2 linked regions of the Homo sapiens genome follow. The protein of the gene in region 1 interacts with the protein of each later gene in a pairwise test. Each region holds a gene or a part of one and is shown on either strand. Other genes may lie near its edges. The genes, in order: SLC12A5 and F2RL1.

Region 1 (3,807 bases):
ATCCTACAATGCTATAGGACAGTCCTCCACAGCAAAGAATTATCTGGCCGGGAGTGTCACTAGTGCCACAGTGGAGAGACCTTGGAATGGAGAGAAGGGGCATATTTAAGAAATATTAAGGAGGGGTTAAAGGACAGAAGTTGGAGGTGGTATTGAAGTTGGGGAAGGGGAGAGGGAGCAGTGTAGGGCAGGGTGTCAGAATTGATGATGGTGCCATTTACTGAAATATGGGATGCAGGAAAGGAGCTGGTTTGGGGTGGGTGGAGGGTGAGATCAATTTGGGACACATCGACTCAATCTGAGATGGGTCTTTATTTGCTCATTTACTCCACTAGATTGGACTGTTTGATGGTAGTGACTGGGTCTGATTAGTCTGTGAAAGGTCTGTACATAGCCTGGCCCAAATCAGGAGCTTAGGAAATGTCAGTGGAAATGAAATAGAGATAAGGCCGGGGAGAGTGAGATGGGGTTGATCTTGACCCTGACTTTTTGCCCCCTCCCACCTCCTGGTCCCAGAGCTCTGGTCCCCTTATGGCTGGCCTCCCCCTGAGCATTCTGTCTCCCCACAGAGAACCTCTGGAGCTCCTACCTGACCAAGGGCGTGATTGTGGAGAGGAGTGGGATGACCTCGGTGGGCCTGGCCGATGGCACTCCTATCGACATGGACCACCCTTATGTCTTCAGTGATATGACCTCCTACTTCACCCTGCTGGTTGGCATCTACTTCCCCTCAGTCACAGGTGAAGGGGAGCTCAGAGAGGGAAGACTCTGCCTGTGAGTGGATGGGGAAGAGAGAGTCGATGATGATGTTGGGAATTTCTTAGTCCAAAAACCCCATCATGAAAGCAACCGTAACATTTCACTTCCCATTGGAGAGATGAGGGAATTAAGGCCAGGAGAAGCTAAGTAACATGTCCAAGGTCTCACACAAGCCAGTATGTTAGGACTAGATCCCAGACTCACTGACCCTGAGGGTGGTGCCCTTTTTTCTCATCTGTCTGGTCTCCTGTGGCCCTGGCTTGAGTCCTAGCTGCACTTCTGTTTTGCAGGGATCATGGCTGGTTCTAACCGCTCTGGGGACCTGAGGGATGCCCAGAAGTCAATCCCCACTGGCACCATCCTGGCCATCGCCACCACCTCTGCTGTCTGTATCCTGCACAGCTGTGCTGGGACCACCCTCGGGGGAGGGCAAGAGGGAGGGCAGCTGAACTTGCTGCCTTACCTGCTGGTGCAGGAAGGGTGGGGAGGGGGAGGACTGAACCGTGGGGATTCTCCTTTATCCTCTGCTGCAGACATCAGCTCCGTTGTTCTGTTTGGGGCCTGCATTGAGGGGGTCGTCCTGCGGGACAAGTAAGATAATTGGGGTTGATCCTATTCTGGGGGAGGGGTGGGTATAGAAGGCTGAGTTCTGGGAAACAGACCCATCAGGAGGTGCTGGGACCTGTGTGAGGGGCCTGTGGGAGGGAGGCCACGGGGATTGCTTGCAAAGTCATCTTCTTATATTTCATCTTCCTTCTGTCACTCCAGTTTGAGAAGCTTGGATGGTGTCTCATTTCCTTTAGGATAATGATACTTTCCTTTTCTTTAAAATGGATTAATTCAATAGTGTGTCTAACATTTACTGAATGTCCATGTGTTGGTCACACAGACAGGAGTGGTATTTATCTGTGTTCCCTCCGAGATTCTGGAGGCAGCACAGATAAATAACACATGGTTTTTGTACTGAAGGAGCTCTTCTTGGTGGGTCTATACTGGCCAACAGACTTTAAGTGCAGTCGGTAGGGGTGGCCATACAGGAAAGCCCAGGGGCTTCAGTCCAGTCCTTAGGGATCTTCCCAGGGAAGTCTTCTCAGAGGAGGGGAGGCTAGAAGTGTCTTATACACTTTATCTCACTTATCCTTCCTGCTTTTAAGGCTGAGCAGAGATTAGGCAGCTTGGAGGAAGGGCATTCCAGGCAATGGGGAGCCAGGGTGGAGGGGAGAAATGTGTGCGCATGCCTGCAGCTGTGAGTGCTCACTGTCCTGGAGCACTCATGTCTGAAGGGCATGAGCACACACAACTGGCCGGGTGGTGTAGGAGGTCCTCTCAGAATCACTTTCCACTGGTACCACCAGGCTTCTGTAAGGGAATGCAGTGGGGGACGTGGGGCTGGGACCTATGCTGGAGACAGGCCTAGAGGCCTGGTTTTCAGTATCAGGAAATTAGAGAATTATTTTATCAAGGAAAAAACAATGGAACATTTGGGGCTCTGCCTCCCCTGTCACCCTTACAGAACTTAGTCCTGTGGCAGGCACACAGTTGGTTCTGTAGTTGGTATGGAGACCTGCCCTGGAAATCCAGGCAGCACTGCTCACCTGGCATCTCCTGTCCACATCATTCCAGGTTTGGCGAAGCTGTGAATGGCAACCTCGTGGTGGGCACTCTGGCCTGGCCATCTCCATGGGTAATTGTCATCGGATCCTTCTTCTCCACCTGTGGGGCTGGGCTGCAGAGCCTCACGGGGGCCCCACGCCTGCTGCAGGCCATCTCGAGGGATGGCATTGTGCCCTTCCTGCAGGTCAGTGTGGGAGAAGAACAGCCCACCCTCAGTAGACCAGCCAGGCCCCTGCCCAGAGAGACCACACAGTGACCCAGGGCCATAACCAGCCTTAGACTACCTCCTGGGCCACTTCTGCTCTGTACTGCACTGGCCAGGCCTATCTGGCAGGGTCTGAGGCACAGGGACAGGGTGGTGTGGGGTGTCAGGAGTTGGGCAGGGCATTGGGTGGTGCCCTGTCTGTGGCTTCTCCTTCACCCAGATGGAAGGATAAGTGTGTCTTACTTGGGATTTGGCCCATGGTCAGTGCATCCCTTGGAGCACTGTCTGCTCTTGGGGAAAAAATAAATGGCCCTGTTTTGGCACTGTGGTTGGTCGGAGACCTGGGGAGGCAGTCAAAGGGCAAGAAAAGGGTAGCTTTTACCATGGTGCTAAAAAAAAAAGACGGATGGAGCACAGGGTCGTGGTGGCTTGCTGGCTTCCTGACAGCTCCTCTCCCATCTGGTCCTCTGCAGCTGCTTTCCCCCTCTAGGGATCATTTGAACTTCATGGCACTGGGGTGCCGATCTCAGGGTGGGCAAGATGCAGCGAAAGCCTGTTATCCATTTGCATTCTCCTGGAGGAAGAGAAATGCATCCTCTCCCTTCCTCCTCTTTGGTGATAGGATTCCTGCCTCTACTCCACTGGTTCCCGAGGCTAGGGGAGAGGGCTGAGAAATCCTTGAGGTCTCAGTCCCATGATGATTGCTCTTTCCCCAGGTCTTTGGCCATGGCAAGGCCAATGGAGAGCCGACCTGGGCCCTGCTCCTGACTGCCTGCATCTGCGAGATTGGCATCCTCATTGCATCCCTCGACGAGGTGGCCCCCATCCTCTCTATGTGCGTGCCTGACTTCTTGCCCTCCCCCCTGGTTCAGGGTGTTTCTCTATCTGAATCCTGCAGCCGTTACCTGTGACAACCCACCCAGACACTTTAGCAACCCCAGGAAGTTCCCCATTGGTCATAGAAGCCCATCGTTTGTTATAGAGAGATTCATCCACACGTGTTATTAGGGTGTGTTGTGAGGGTATTTGGCTTGAAACCCCTTCCTAAGCACCACAGCATGATCTGGCCACCTCCTGACTTCCTGTCCCCTTTCCCCCTTTCTCTGCCCATGCTGTTGTTTCTGTTTCTGCCTCCCTTTGCATCTCTGTCTCCCCTGGGGCCTTCCTGTGTTCCAGGTTCTTCCTGATGTGCTACATGTTTGTGAATCTGGCCTGTGCAGTGCAGACGC
Region 2 (4,450 bases), on another chromosome or scaffold:
ATGGATGTAATAAAGAGTGGGAAAATATATAAGCCGAAATATTAGCGGTGGCTACTTTGGTACTGAAGTTCAGGGTGATTTAATTAAATGTTTCCTTTTTTTGTTTTGGCTCATTTTTCCCTCGAGTGATCACATATTGTTTTTATAATTTAAAAAACAATTATAGGTAGGGCGCAGTAGCTCATGCCTGTAATCCCAGCACTTTGGGAGGCTGAAGGTGGGTGGATCACCTGAGGTCAGGAGTTTGAGATCAGCCTGACCAATATGGTGAAACCCTGTCTCTACTAAAAATACAAAAATTAGCTGGGGGTGGTGGTGCGTGCCTGTCGTCCCAGCTACTCGGGAGGCTGCAGCAGGAGACTTCCTTGAGCCCGGGAGAGGTGGAGGTTGCAATGAGCCAAAATTGCACCACTGCACTCAAGCCTGGGCAACCGAATGAGAGTCAAAAAAAAAAAAAACCCAAAAAACCAAAAAAACAAAAAAAAACCACCAAACCAATTATAAAGAAAACAGAAGTTCCAGTCTCCAAAAGATAAATGGAATGACCTAGGCCTGTAACATGGTGGAAAAAAATAAGTAAGTGGCAGAGAGAAGCTGACTGAAATGAACACCACATGGACCAGCCAGGGTACTCTGGGCAAGACTCCTCACTTCATTCATTTGCTATTTACTGAGGTCCCGTAGGTGATGAGACTATGCTAGACGTGATGGAAAGGATGGTAGGGCCCCCTGCCTCCAGGAGTTAACGATGCAGTGAGGACACATATTAAGCATGTTTACCCAAATAATTATCAATTACTATTGTAAAGGGAAAGAGAAGCCCTGATTTCCAAGTGTTTTCCTTGCCTTGCCTCCTCAATTCAGTGTCCTTCACCTGTACCCTGAGAAGGTTGTGATCTCGGCTGAGTTCGTTTCTATGAGGCAGTCTTTTGGAGTGAGGCTTTGGGAAGAAAATCAAACCCCAAATCGGCCCTGCAGCCACCTGAGGGGCACGCAGAAGGACCGGCTAAAAAGCGAGTGAGCAAAGACCCACCCTGAGGGCAGAAAAGCTTTGCTAACACTGTATTTCTTATTAAAATCAATTTAGTTTTAAGGTGGGAGGAAAGCTCCATCTGCCTAAATCAATTGTCAGTGTTACTTCACTAACCCTTTGGGAAAGTTACTTTGCAAGGGAATAAAAGTATGGTGGGGGGAGGATGAGGAACAAGGTGCAATATTAAGTGGCTATAGTTAACAAGTAACCTGATTTTTCCTTATTGTTAAATCAAGTTCGCCTTATAATCCAGGGATCTCCCAATCCCCCAAGAGTAGTAAACAAGAACAAGACAAATAATCGGGGCATGCTTCCTACAGGGATCTCTGAATCATAAAGATGTTGAATCAGCTATACCAACATGTATTTTTTTAAAGTTTGCACATACTAACCTTTGCTCCTGAATTTTAAGTTTCCAACTTTAAAGGACATAGAGGAGAGGTGTCCATTACAGTTTTCAATACTTCCTGGAACTAAATGCCTTTATTCTGATGCTGATTAAGAAAAAAAAATATACCAGCGGTGCACAGTTTTCAAGCTTACACCATTAACACCCTTTTCCCTAACTGCAGAGGGAAAAGAATCACATTCTTCCATCTAATTCCAACCCACTGTGACTTGCTCTTTTACTTCGTCTTTATGAAGAGGAGGATAAAAGTGAGAAATGCGCATTTCTGAGGGAAATTAAAAGCTCCCTTTGCTACCCAGGCTGCCCCAAACAGAGGGGCCTCGGTTAGGATCACAGTGGCGCGATCGCAGGTCAAACATCCCCCACGGCCACAGCGAGGCCTGCTGGGCCCGGAAGAACACACTCCCAGCAATACAAGTTCGAGCACACCCGGAGCAGCACATCCAAGGAACGCGACGGCCGGGCGCAAGTGCTGCTCTGTTCCCAGGCCAGCCAGCCTCTGGCCTGCAGACCTGGGTGGCAGCCAGTGGCCGCTCCGGGTGGCACACTAGGAAAGTCCCGGAACCCCAGGCCCAGAGGGTCAACTGGTCAAATATAAGGCAGGGTCCAAAAAGTTCCGCTCGTAAATCCTCGTGGCGCCCAACGGGCCTGAGCGCTCATTACCACCAGAACCCATCAGGGACCGGCCCTGACTTTCATACCCCGGGCCTTCCACTGTGGGTGCCAGGAGCAGCGGGACCCGGGTGGGTCTCGAACGCAGGGGCCAGAACCCGAAGAAAGGCTTCCAGCAGTTGGAGAGGGACGCAAAAAACAACCTAGAAGGCTCCCGGGCCGCGGGTTCCCACCCACTCCGCCCTGCCCTGCGCAATCAGCTCGCTAACCCCACCGGCCCCGCGGGGCCAGCGGAGGAAGTCTCCGGAGTTGGCAAAAAGCTCTTAATGACTTAGTGTTTACAAAGCAACCAAGCCCGGGGAGGGGACTAGGTCCTCTGCGTACCCTTTAGACACAGCTACTCCTTCCTTCCCTCCCTTTCCCCGAACCCACGCTGGGGCCTGGAGGTGCCCAGCATGACAGCCTCTACGGGAAGTGGGGTCTTTGGGGAAATCTCTGCCTCTGCCCGGCTCCGCTGACTTCAGCTGCTCCCGCATGTCCCACCTGGGTGCCTCCTTGGCGCAGAGACCTCACATCAAAGCCACCAAGGGGAGGCTAAGGGATTCGTAGAGATGGGTGCCGGCAGCAGAACAGCCTTCGCACACCTGCCCGGATCCCACCGTCTGCCCAGCGTGCCCAGGACCCCAGCTCCTCAGAGATAAGAGCCCTCCTTGGCCAGGTTTCTCACCTTGGATGGTGCCACTGCAGGAGAGAGAGGCTGCTAGCAGGATGGCGGCCCCCAGCAGCCACGCCGCGCTGGGGCTCCGCATCCTCCTGGAAGCCCCGACGCCGGGCGCGCGGGGAATCCGCCGCCGCCGATTCGAAACTCAGAGCTCCACTGGACGCACCGAGAGAAAGTCAGCCTCTCACCTGCCCCGAATCGGAGCCTCTGCTGCGCGCCTCCCCAGGGCGGGTTAGGTTTCAGGGAAACCGAAGGAGCAGCGTACTCACCTGCGGGAGGCCACGCCCCGGGACCGGAACGCGCGCCCTGGTCCCGCCCCCGGCCCCCTTCCCTGCGCAGCTGCGCCCTCCGCTTCCCGGACTCGCGCCAGGTCCCTTAGACTGCGGGAGCCGCCTGCGGGCGGGGTTGAGCGCATGAGGTGTCTGCTTTGGAATGCAAATAGCAGGAGCGCTGGGACCACGGGTTAATCCCTGCCTAGGCTATACCGCGAACTACCTTTAATCTTTACTTACTCCTAGAGAAGCGGGTCGTCGGTCTCCCTTGCCTTTCCTGACTGTGGGAAAGCCACGATTCGTACTCACTGCAATTGTGGTTGGTAACTGATACAGACAGGGCTTCCCGGTGCGGTGGACCCTGCAGGAGGAGGGATGCGTTTTTTATTGTAGAGGCAGGTGGGCAACTGCGGACATCACGAAAGCGGTGGGGAGCACAAGAGGCGGGGCGGGAAAGAAGACATGGAATGGCTACTTTCAGCGCCAAGTGCCAAAGCTTTAGAGAATTATCTTGCTTAATCCCCATAACAACCAGCGCAATAAGTATGATTATTCTTCCCATTTTACAGACGAGGAAAGTGAGCTTAGAAAGACCAGATAAATTGGCCAGAGTTACACGACTTATAAACACAGTGTATAAATGTTTATCACATTTCAACTCCAGTATAAGACTATCACTGTCTTCTATTCATCGCTGCACTATAAATGCGTCCACCAGGGCTCCTCTGCATTGGGATCCCATAGGCTAAATAAATACAAAAGCAGATAGAAGGGGTGGGAGAAGAGAAGTGTGGGGTTGGGGATGAGTGCATGAGGGTTGGCATCATATTGGTAATGTCTTACTTTTTGTTTTTGAGACGGAGTCTCGCTCTGTCTCCCAGGCTGGAGTGCAGTGGCGTGATCTCGGCTCACTGCAAACTTTGTCTCCTGGGTTCAAGCAATTCTCTGGCCGCAGCCTCCCGAGTAGCTGGAGTTACAGGCGTGCACCACATCTGGCTAATTTTTGTATTTTTAGTAGAGGCGGGGTTTCACCATGTTGGTCTGGCTAGTCTCGAACTCCTGACCTCGTGATCAGCCCACCTCCGCCTCCCAAAGTGCTGCGATTACAGGCGTGAGCCACCGCACCCAGCATGTCTTACTTTTTATTTGCTTTTTAAAAGATTGAATAAAACAAAGTCTACTGTTACCCATTTAAACTATTGGTACCAGAAGAGCACAGAAGAGAGACATAGGTATTTTCAAATATTTAAAGGATTCGCTTGTAGAAGAGGATTTAGATGTGTTTTGAGTTGCTCCAGAGAGCAAAAATTGGTGGAAGCCACAGTGGGGTTTAATTTCAGCTCAATGTATAAAGAAATTTTCTTTATTTTTTATTTTAATTTCTATTAGAAAATAGAAGTGGG

The links.
Region 2: the proteins of SLC12A5 (region 1) and F2RL1 interact in a two-hybrid assay, tested with the Homo sapiens proteins (one large-scale study listed by BioGRID and IntAct).

Annotation. Positions count from the first base shown.
Region 1 is NC_000020.11:46,042,584-46,046,390, forward strand, and holds part of SLC12A5 (solute carrier family 12 member 5), read left to right. Parts: intron 1-569; coding exon 570-740; intron 741-1,049; coding exon 1,050-1,148; intron 1,149-1,292; coding exon 1,293-1,350; intron 1,351-2,382; coding exon 2,383-2,557; intron 2,558-3,294; coding exon 3,295-3,413; intron 3,414-3,754; coding exon 3,755-3,807. UniProt on the Homo sapiens protein: Mediates electroneutral potassium-chloride cotransport in mature neurons and is required for neuronal Cl(-) homeostasis.
Region 2 is NC_000005.10:76,817,596-76,822,045, reverse strand, and holds the start of F2RL1 (proteinase-activated receptor 2 preproprotein), read right to left. Parts: upstream 3,017-4,450; 5' UTR 2,864-3,016; coding exon 2,782-2,863; intron 1-2,781. UniProt on the Homo sapiens protein: Receptor for trypsin and trypsin-like enzymes coupled to G proteins.